3 linked regions of the Homo sapiens genome follow. The protein of the gene in region 2 purifies or fractionates together with the protein of the main gene of each other region. This does not show direct contact. Each region holds a gene or a part of one and is shown on either strand. Other genes may lie near its edges. The genes, in order: BCAT1, EPHX2 and PUDP.

Evidence for each region.
Region 1: the proteins of EPHX2 (region 2) and BCAT1 fractionate together in Homo sapiens (co-fractionation; one large-scale study listed by BioGRID). This does not show direct contact.
Region 3: the proteins of EPHX2 (region 2) and PUDP fractionate together in Homo sapiens (co-fractionation; one large-scale study listed by BioGRID). This does not show direct contact.

Annotation. Positions count from the first base shown.
Region 1 is NC_000012.12:24,879,589-24,883,245, forward strand, and holds part of BCAT1 (branched-chain-amino-acid aminotransferase, cytosolic), read right to left. Parts: intron 1,824-3,657; coding exon 1,713-1,823; intron 1-1,712.
Region 2 is NC_000008.11:27,497,629-27,501,285, reverse strand, and holds part of EPHX2 (bifunctional epoxide hydrolase 2), read right to left. Parts: intron 361-3,657; coding exon 276-360; intron 1-275. UniProt on the Homo sapiens protein: Bifunctional enzyme. The C-terminal domain has epoxide hydrolase activity and acts on epoxides (alkene oxides, oxiranes) and arene oxides. Plays a role in xenobiotic metabolism by degrading potentially toxic epoxides.
Region 3 is NC_000023.11:7,051,181-7,054,204, forward strand, and holds part of PUDP (pseudouridine-5'-phosphatase), read right to left. Parts: intron 1-3,024. UniProt on the Homo sapiens protein: Dephosphorylates pseudouridine 5'-phosphate, a potential intermediate in rRNA degradation. Pseudouridine is then excreted intact in urine.

The sequences.
Region 1 (3,657 bases), on a different chromosome or scaffold from region 2:
TATAGAAATTGGGACTGCCAATCATATAGGTGAACCCTGTAGCACCTGCCTCAGCCCCTGGTATTGCTGTCTAGAGACAGAATTCAGTGAGAAGAGAACTTGACCAGGAATAAAAACACCTGGATCTAATTTCTTGCCCTGTCCTTTTGCTCTTTGTGACTTCAGACAAGTCATTTAATCTCTCTGGACTCAAGTTTTCTTCTCTGTACAAAGGCACTAATAAACTGTACAACAAATAATCTTCTTAGCAACGCCTTACTGCTGTGATTACACAGATAAGGAATGTGAAACTACATAACACAGTTTGGTAGCAAAATTGATGTCTAACAAATATTACTTCCCTTTCCTTCCAGCCCCATTTTAAAGACTTTTCCCCAGTGATCTAGCTGTAATGAGAAGAAGAGCGAAACTATGCCCTAGTCCAAAGAATTTACCTTAATTTCCCCTCTGCTACTATATTATGGCCTCCAAAGGAGATGGGTGAAATGCGGGTTACAAAAATAGGCAGAGGAATGAAGAACACTTGGATTTAGCCGTCCTCAGGCTTCCTGAATGCATAGGTTGGGCTAAATCCCTGAAGCTGGGCACGGTGGCTCATGCCTGTAATCCCAGAACTTTGGGAGGCTGAGGCAGGCAGATCACTTGAGGCCAGAAGTTCAAGTCCAGCCTGGCTAACATGGTGAAATCATGTCTCCACTAAAAATAATTTTTAAAAAAATTAAGCTGGGCATGGCTGCGTGCACTTGTAATCCCAGATACTAAGGAGGCTGAGGCACAAGAATCACTTGAACCCCGGAGGTGGAGGTTGTAGTGAGCCAAGATTGTGCCACTGCACTATAGCTTGGGTGACAGAGTGAGACTCTCTCTCAAAAAAAAAATCTAACCCATCTTACAATGATTTCTGCTCCATAAGAAACATTGTGACAGCCACGATTCAATGGCCATGAGAAACCATTTTGATATCTTTTTATCTCAAAACATTACTTAAGATAAAATATCAAAATAATTAAGTTACTATATCTTGCTAGCATCTAAAGCAATTAGGCAAAATATCCGCAAAATACCTGTGCTGCACACCATATTTTCCATTTTCAATATTAATTTCATGTGGTCTTCAAATATTATTTTAGGTTGAGATACATTTTTCTTCCTTACTCTTTCATCTCTCACTTGCATATGAATCCCCCACAGACACTGATTTTAAAAAATTGTGGAATTGCCAAATGATATTATTTTCTTGGGTTTTTTGTTTTTTGTTTTTTTTTTTTACAGAGTCTCACTTTGCGGCTTAGGCTGGAGGGCAGTGATGTGATTATCTTGGCTCACTGCAGCCTCCACCTGCCAGGTTCAAGCAATTCTCATGCCTCAGCCACACCGATGGGACCACAGGCATGTGCCACCAAACCCGGCTAATTTTTGTATTTTTTGCAGAGATGGTGTTTCACCATGTTGGCCAGGCTTGTCTCCAATTCCTGGTTTCAAGTGATCCACCCACCTCAGTCTCCCAGAGTGCTGGGATTATAGGAGTGAACCACCGTGCCCGGCCATTTTCTTGTATTTTTACCTAACTAAAGTAGATCAGAAATAATGTTAATGTTCATATGGTTTGTACTGAATATTTATCTAACTATTCAGAAATTATTTATTTGGTGGTCAACACCGTGACCCGTTACATTAAAAGAAACACAAAAGAAACTCCTACACTTACATACCGGCAGAGTTGCCCTCACAGCAGAGCGATACATTCTATCCATGTTGAGGTTTGGCTGAAACAGTCGAATTTTATTATCTACTCCTCGAAATGCCTTCAATCCTTCAAATAACTGGAGATCAAAGAGAAAAAATCTTAGAGGGTAACCAAAAGAAAACAACCCGTGTTCAAGAGACTGACTTTCCTATGGGCGTTCATCTTATTCATCCCATAAAGCTGTTGACATTGACCTCAACTTGAGATCATTAAATCCAGGAAAGCTAACAGTTGACAGGACTGGTAAAAACAATGGTTGAGGTGGAGGAAAGTTATTTTATTATCAGAATTTGGTAGGAATTCCGAGTTCTCCTCTGCTTAGCAGGAGCCACACTGCTGAATAACACATTTAGGTGTTATTTAAGGGAGCAGGAAGAAAACATCTAGAATCACACAGCACAGGTTAATTCCCTAGGCAATGGAGATCGAAACCAAAGGCCTTGTGGCACCGTGGCCCCCAAAGAGTACCCCCATATCCTTTCATGTAATCTGGTTCATTTGAATGCTGGATAGTAGATAATCCAGATGTGACCAGAGCTGGTTCAGTCCCTAAATCACAGAAACCAGGCAGCTCAAGACCATACTATGTTAAGCCACGTCACCTCCCTCAATCAAAGTGCTGTCCTGAACAAACCACTGATCAGGGATTTGAAAAGACTTCAGTAGATACATACTGATAAATACAGAGAAAGACAAAAATCAATAATTTTAGTGGGAAAATTTAACACAGCTTCTCTAAGTAATTTATAGAACAAACAGGCTAAACCTTAGTAAAGATATGCAAGATATGAACAACAGGAAGAACAAACTTCCCTAACTGATACAGAGAACTCTTACACAGACCAGCTGTAGAATTCACATATTTTCCAAACACAAGATAAGCCAGAAATCAATACCAAAAGTTTGACTGGACACCATCCATATTTTGGAAAATAAATCCACCACTAACTAAACCATAGGTCACAGAAGAAAAATGGAAATTAGAAAATAAGTTAAACTGAACGATAATGAAAAGTAAGGCCTTTAAAGATGTATACCCTAAAAACTTACATGGGAAAAAAAGAAATACAAATCATGTATAATTAAAAAGCATAAAATTAGATGTTGTATTTAAGTGCAAATATATTATTAGTTTATTAAATATAACAGTACTAAAGCTTCGGTTAAAATATAAGTTTGTTAGATTGGACTCAGCTGACAATATCTGAATCAAAAAGACAGAAAAAGATATATCATGCAAATACTTTATTTTTTATTATTTATTTTTTTTTTTTGAGACAGAGTTGTTTTTCTCTGTCACCCAGGCTGAATGAAGTTCAGTGGCAAGATCTTGGCTCACTGCAACCTCTACCCCCTGGGTTCAAGCAATCCTCCCACCTCAGCCTCCAGAGTAGCTGGGACTACAGGCGCGCACCACCACGCCCAAGTTAATTTTTTGTATTTTTTGTAGAGACGAGGTTTTGCCATGTTGCCTAGGCTGGTCTCGAACTCCTGGGCTCAAGTGATGTGCCTGCCTCGGCCTCCCAAAGTGCTGGGATTACAGGCATGAGCCACTGCACCTGGCCTGCAAATACTTTCTAAAATAAAACTGGCAAGCTTCCATTACTATTTATAAAACAAAAGAATTTAAGCCAAGAAGCACTACTGAAGATAAAAAAGGCAACTTCAAGGCTGGGTGTGATGGCTCACGTCTGTAATCCCAACACGTTGGGAGGCCAAGGCTGTTGGATCACTTGAGGTCAGGAGTTCGAGACCAGCCTGGACAACATGGTGAAACCCATCTCTACCAAAAATATAAAAATGAGCCAGGCATGGTAGCATGTGCCTGTAGTCCCAGCTACTTGGGAGGCTGAGCCAGGAGAATTGCTTAAACCCAGGAGGCGGAGATTGTGGTGAACCAAGATCACGCT
Region 2 (3,657 bases):
TTACTGAGGTTTTTTTATGGATTAAATAAAAAGTCAATAATTCAATAATGTTCTTCCCAATAGTTTCATCACAGTTTTCGTTCACCATTTGCCACAATATATTAGCAAGTATGTTTTAAGGTGACTGCAATACTCCCATTAATACCATTAAAACAACATTTGTCTTCACAGAAAAGGTGGGTGTTTTCTATTATGGTGGGCCCCAAGTTCGGGGAGATGGGCACACAGGCAGAGAACGTTCATCCAAAGGGCTCTGTGTGGTGATGTCCCCTCACCTGGGAAAGTGTGATCTCTCCTTTCATAAGCCGGGTAGTGGCACCCTCTGGTCCCCCTTTCTGGAAAGCATCATTCAGAAGTCCTCTGGAAAACACAAAGAACATCAGGAACATTCTGTGGATTTTGTCATGGCAGCACATGGAAACAGACACTGTTCATATTCATTGAGAAGCAGCCACTAGAAAGGGATACTGCCAGGAACTGGAAAATGCAAACGCAGTTCAAATTGGGATCTTTGCGCGCAAGGAGCCATCCAGCTGAGGACATGAGACCATACAGTAAATCACAGTATGTTCCACAGAGAAGCTGCCCATGGGAAACCACCTAATAGCAGCTTCACCCAGAGGCGCTTCCTACTTTACTATATAACGGTCAGAACCGAGAGTGGGCACGCGGCCATTACTGTCCTCGTGTGCACCAGGCATGGTCTCAAAGAACTTTTTCATGAGTTCACCTTCTTCAAAAAGAATGGAATATGTTTTTTGTGGTTTCGATTCTGCCTCTCTAGTTTCTATTTTATCTTAATGTCATCTTCTAACCTTTAAAAAGTTTCCTGTATTAGTCTGTTCTCACACTGCTATAAAGACGTACCTCAGATCGGGTAATTTATAAAGAAAAGAGATTTAATTGGCTCATGGTTCTGCAGGCTGTAGAGGAAGCATAGCTGGGGAGGCCTCAGGGAACTCACAATCATGGCGGAGGGTGAAGGGGAAGCAAGGCACGTGTTACATGGTTGGAGCAGGAGGAAGAGAGAGAAGAGGTAAGTGCTACACACTTTTATAAACAACTAGATCTCATGAGAACTCACTCAACATCACGAGAACAGCAAGGAGGAAATCCACCCCCATGATCCAATCACCTCCCACCAACCCCCTCCTCCAACATTAGGGATTACAACTGGACAGGAGATTTGGGTGGGGACACAAATTCAAACCATATCACTGTGTTAAGGCTGGGTTGTATACCCCCATCCCAAATACATACATTGAAGTTCTAACTTCCAATACCTCAGGATGTGACTGTATTTGGAGAGTGGGTCTTTAAGAGGTAATTGAGTTAAATAAGATCATACAGGTGGGCTCTAATCCAACAATAGGACTGGTGCCCTTATAAGGCGATTAGGACACAGACACACACAGAGAGTCAACCATGTGAGGACACAGGGAGAACACTGTTAACAAGCCAAGGAGAGAGGCCTCAGAAGGAACCAACCCTGCTGACATCTTGATCTTGGACTTCCAGCCTCCAGAGCTGTGAGAGAAAACATTTCCATTGTTGCCATCCAGTCTCTGTTTGCTGTTACAGCAGCCTCAGTAAATAAATACACTGAGTAACAGAACAAATGTATTTATGTGTACGAATGCATTTGTTCTATTACTCAGGTCTGGAAAGTAATTTTAACTGGCTTGCCAATCCCAGATGAATTCCAGTTGAAGTGGCAAGCCAGTTAAAATTACCAGCCCTGAGTAACAGAACAAATATCCCCATCCTGGGAGCTTTATTTCTGATAATAGTCAAGTATACCTTTTATCAGACACCCTCTTGCAGGTAACAGTGGTCAGCTCTGGACCAACTATATGGAGACATATACCTAATATCTGTGGCCTTGCTCAACTTTTCAATGTCAGCAATGGTTTTCCCATACCTTTGCCAACAGTTGTTGGTTTTTTAAACAGCTTTGTTAAGGTATAATTACTGCTATGGTTTGAACGTTTGTCTCCTCTGAAGCTCATGTTGAAATTTAATCCCCATTGTGGCATTAAATTAAAATTGAGAGGTGGGCCTTTAAGAAGTGATTGGGTCATGAGGGCTCCACCTTCATGGATGGATTAATTCATCCATAGGCTAATGGGTTAATGAGTTAATGGGTTATCATGGGATTGGGACTAGTGGCTTTATAAGAAGTGGAAGTGAGGCCTGAGCTAGCACACTGAGCCCCCTCACCATATGATGCCCTGTGCTACCTTGAGACTCTGCAGAGAGTCCCTACCAGCAAAAATGCCCTCACCAGATGCAACCCCTCAACCTTGGAATTATCAGCCTCCATAACTGCAAGAAATAAATTCCTTTTCTTTATAAATTACCCAGTTTCAGATATCCTGTTGTAAGCAACAGAAAATGGACTAAGACAATTACATAGCATTAAATTCATGTAGTATGACAATTCAATGATTTGCAGTAAATTTACAGTTGTGTAAGCATCACCACATTCCAATTTTAGAACATTTCCACCTCCTCCAAAAGACTCCTGGTCCCTTTCAGTATCTGCTCCTCAGTATTAAGAAGCAATGCAATATTCAACTTAACAATCCTATTGAGCATCTTAGGTATGTGAGGCATTGTGCTATGTGCTGTGATGCAAAAGTGGAAAAATATGATGCTATTCATAGGAAGCTCACAGAAGAACAAGGGAGGCAAGGTATAAACAAATAACTACAAGACACTAGGTGAGTGGGAAAACAGGGGAAAATTATTTCTTCTTCTTAGAGAATGGGAGATGATAAAAGAAGAGGAACTAGGGAAAGAATATAACTATACAGGAAGAAGATACCACTGAATCTATAAAACAAGGGCAGGTGGTCATTAAAAAAAAAAGCAACTTGATACAACAAGAACATTCTTGGTATTGGAAACATGAGCTTACCTCCATATCCTAGCCTAGCTCCAGCTCCTCTTCCTGTTAATGATAAGCCTCCTCTAATCTCCCCCACTCAGAAGGAAACAAGCAAAGAAATCTCCAAGGGACCATAAAACCCCCGGGCTATCGGTTATGTCCCCTTCAAGCTGTAGGGGGAGGGGAATTTGGCCCAACCTGGGTATATATCCCCTTCTCCCTCTCTGATTTAAAGCAGATCAAGGTAGACCTGGGGAAGTTTTCAGATGATACTGATAGGTATATAGATGTCCTACAGGGTCTAGGGCAAACCTTCGACCTCACTTAGAGAGATGTCATGCTATTGTTAGATCAAACCCTGCCCTTTAATGAAAAGAATGCGGCTTTAGCTGCAGCCTGAGAGTTTGGTATCTTAGTCAAGTAAATGGTATCTTAGTCAAGTAAATGACAGAATGACAGCCAAAGAAAGGGACAAATCCCTACCGGTCAACAAGCCGTCCCCAGTATGGATCTCCACTGGGACCTAGACTCAGATCATGGGGACTGGAGTCGCAAACATCCGTTGACCTGTCTTCCAGAAGGACTAAGGAGAATTAGGAAAAAGCCCATGAATTATTCAATGATGTCCACCATAACTCAGGAAAAGGTAGAAAATCCTACTGCCTTCCTTGAGCGGCTACAGGAGGCCTTAAGAAAATATACTCCCCTGTCACCTGACTCCCTCGAGGGTCAATTGATTCTAAAAGATAAGTTTATTACCCAATCAG
Region 3 (3,024 bases), on a different chromosome or scaffold from region 2:
ATGAGGCATATATACACCATGGAATACTACTCAGACATAAAAAGGAATGAAATAATGTCTTCTGCAGCAACATGGATGGAGCTGGAGGCCATTATTCTAAGTAACTCAGGAATGGAAATCCAAATATCGTATGCTCTCACTTATAAGTGGAATCTAAGCTATGAGGATGGGAAGCCATAAGAATTCTATATAATGCATTTTGGGGACTAGCGGGGTGAGGAAGAAAAGACTACATACTGGGTACAGTGCACACTGTTCGGTTGACGTGTGTGCTAAAATCTCAGAAATCACTGCTAAAGAACTTATCCATGTAACCAAAAGCCACCTGTACCCTACAGACTATTAAAATAAAAATTAAAATTAAAAAGGAAAAAAATAAAGTACTAAAAGAAAAACCAATACATAAAATGGGGTGTTTGTACACTGCATTTATCAGTGAGCTCCTAAAGGTGCCACCACATTGACAATGTTACAGTAAGTTTCACATGAGGGCTCCCTCCAAAGGAGACACCCCAGAGCCTGCTCCATAGTATAAACAAGCATAATCCACATGTGCTATCTTCATATCACCGACCCTCTCAGGAAGACATACACTTAGGAAGGAAGCTTCTTCCCTGCATTCCTAGAATGGCACACACTTCATGTGAAAACAGATGTACTGATGCTTTTTAACTGAGACTCTGCAGAGGCCCAGACATCTGTAAGGGAAGAGAGGTCCTCGCCATGGCGACCTATGCTGAGGAGTCTCCCCTGCTCTTCTCCACATGTGGCCTAGAACTCCAGGAGTTGTTGAGGTGGGGCCTTTCAGCTCTCCACTCATCTCTTCTTTGTCTCCTTTGTCCCTCTGCATTTTCTTTTTTTTTTTTTGGTGAGACAGAGTCTTGCTCTCTCACCCAGGCTGAAGTGCAGTGGTGCGATCTTGGCTCACTGCAGCCTCTACCTCCCAGGCTCAAGCAATTCTCATGCCTCAGCCTCCCAAGCAGCTGGGACTACAGGCATGCATCACCAAGCCGGCTAATTTTTTTTTGTATTTTTCAGTAGAGACAGGGTTTCACCATGTTGGCCAGGCTGGTCTCCAACTCCTGGACTCAAGTGATCTGCCCGCCTCGGCCTCCCAAAGTGCTGGGATTACAGGTGTGTGCCACCACACCTGGCCCCCTTTGCCTTTCATTATGAAAATGTCCTCTTCGGCTCATCACCAGGTATATAGCAGCGACTCAATGCACTGGTGTCCTGGAAAGGGCTCACGGAAGCCTGATGCCAGGTCTGAAAGAGAAGCTCTGCATTCTTTGGCGTTTTCAGTAGAAAACACTGAAACACACACACAGTCTTAACTACTAGTGGTCTGTGCTGTAGCCAGCACAATGACTTTTTTCTTTTTCCCTCCCTCCCTTTTTCTTTCCATTACCCCATTCTTTCCTTCAATCTGGGGCTAAAATATCATATTAGCCAACTTATCCCAACAGGGCTGAACCCTGGATTAAGTGAGTTAATCCATGTGACAATGGAATGTGAATGCTACCTTACTTTCACAGAGGGAACTTGGTTGGCCCAGCTGTTTCGGTTTGCTTGGAACTGAAGGGTCAGCTGTGGGGCAGGATGTTCCGTGCTACACCCTGGACAGTCCCAGGCAAGCCACAGTAGTCCGTCCCAACACCTCCCTTCCAACAGCCTCTGATGCCCCCTGGTTTCTTTCTCCTGTGAGACACTGGTCACCGTAGGACGCGAGAAGAAATGACTCCACTTAGACTGTCCAAGTTGGTTTTCTCTGTTATCTCATTCAGTGACTACCTGTTCATGATATTTCTGCCCTTGCCTTTTTAAAAGTTATGACTTGATTGTATTCTAAATGCCCTCCACTGTTTTTATCTGGGACCAGAGATAGGCACTTAAATGTCAAATGACATTTCAAAATATCCGTCACCTTCTCCGGGGATTCTGAAGCTTTGTGCAGGGTCCACCTGTGAAATGTGGACTGGGGTAGAGGAAGAGATGGATTATCCCCTGGGGTAACACTGCTTGGCTAAGTTGTGAAAGCAGCTTTTATTCTCTATTTGCGTGAGGCTGCTTCCAAGGAGCAAGACAGGTGTGTGGGACGGGAAATCAGTAGCTGACTGTGGCTGTTCCCAAAGAGATAATGGAAGGCACCCAATACACCTGCACTCACCTAAAGGGGGTCATACAGTTTTGCTGTGTCCCTACTCAAATCTCATCTTGAAATGTAGCTCCCAGAATCCCCACGTGTTGTGGGAGGGACCTGGTGGGAGACAATTGAATCATGGGGGCAGTTTTCCCCATACTATTCTCATGGTAGTGAATAAGTCTCACAAGATCTGATGGTTTTATAAGGGGAAACCCCTTTCGCTTGGCTCTTATTCTCTCTCTTGCCTGCTGCCATGCAAGACATACCTTTCACCTTCTGCCATGATTGTGAGGCCTCCTCATTCATGTGGAACTGTGAGTCCATTAAACCTCTTTTTCTTTGTAATTTACCCAGTCTTGGGTATGTCTTTATCAGCAGTGTGAAAATGGACTAATACAGGGGGTCTGCAGTGGAGGGAAATGCAGGCCCCATGGTGTCCCTTCACACCTGAGAAATCTTTTCAAAGGCAGCCCCTGTTTAAAGGCAACTAAGTGAGGGCTGTGAGTGAGGAGGGAAACTTGCAAGTGTCTGCGGCACTGACAGCAGGAGCAGCTGACACCAGCTCTTGGAGACCTTTTTACTGTTTCTCATGGCTTTCACGTTTTGCTGGTTCCTCTGTGTTCAATTAATCTGTCCTCACCTATTTTTAAGAATAATCCAAAATGGCACTGACATCTGGAATACTACACACAACATGTAAGACAAATGTCGTACATAAAGTAAGGGGGACTCGAATAAGCATGAAGAGTGGCGAAAAGTCAAGGTTGGTAACTGGTTGCTATCACAATCAATCACAATAAGAAGGTGACGTAGGCTGGGCGCAGTGGCTCACACCTGTATTTTGGGAGGCCGAGGTACGCGGATCACTTGAGGTCAGGAGT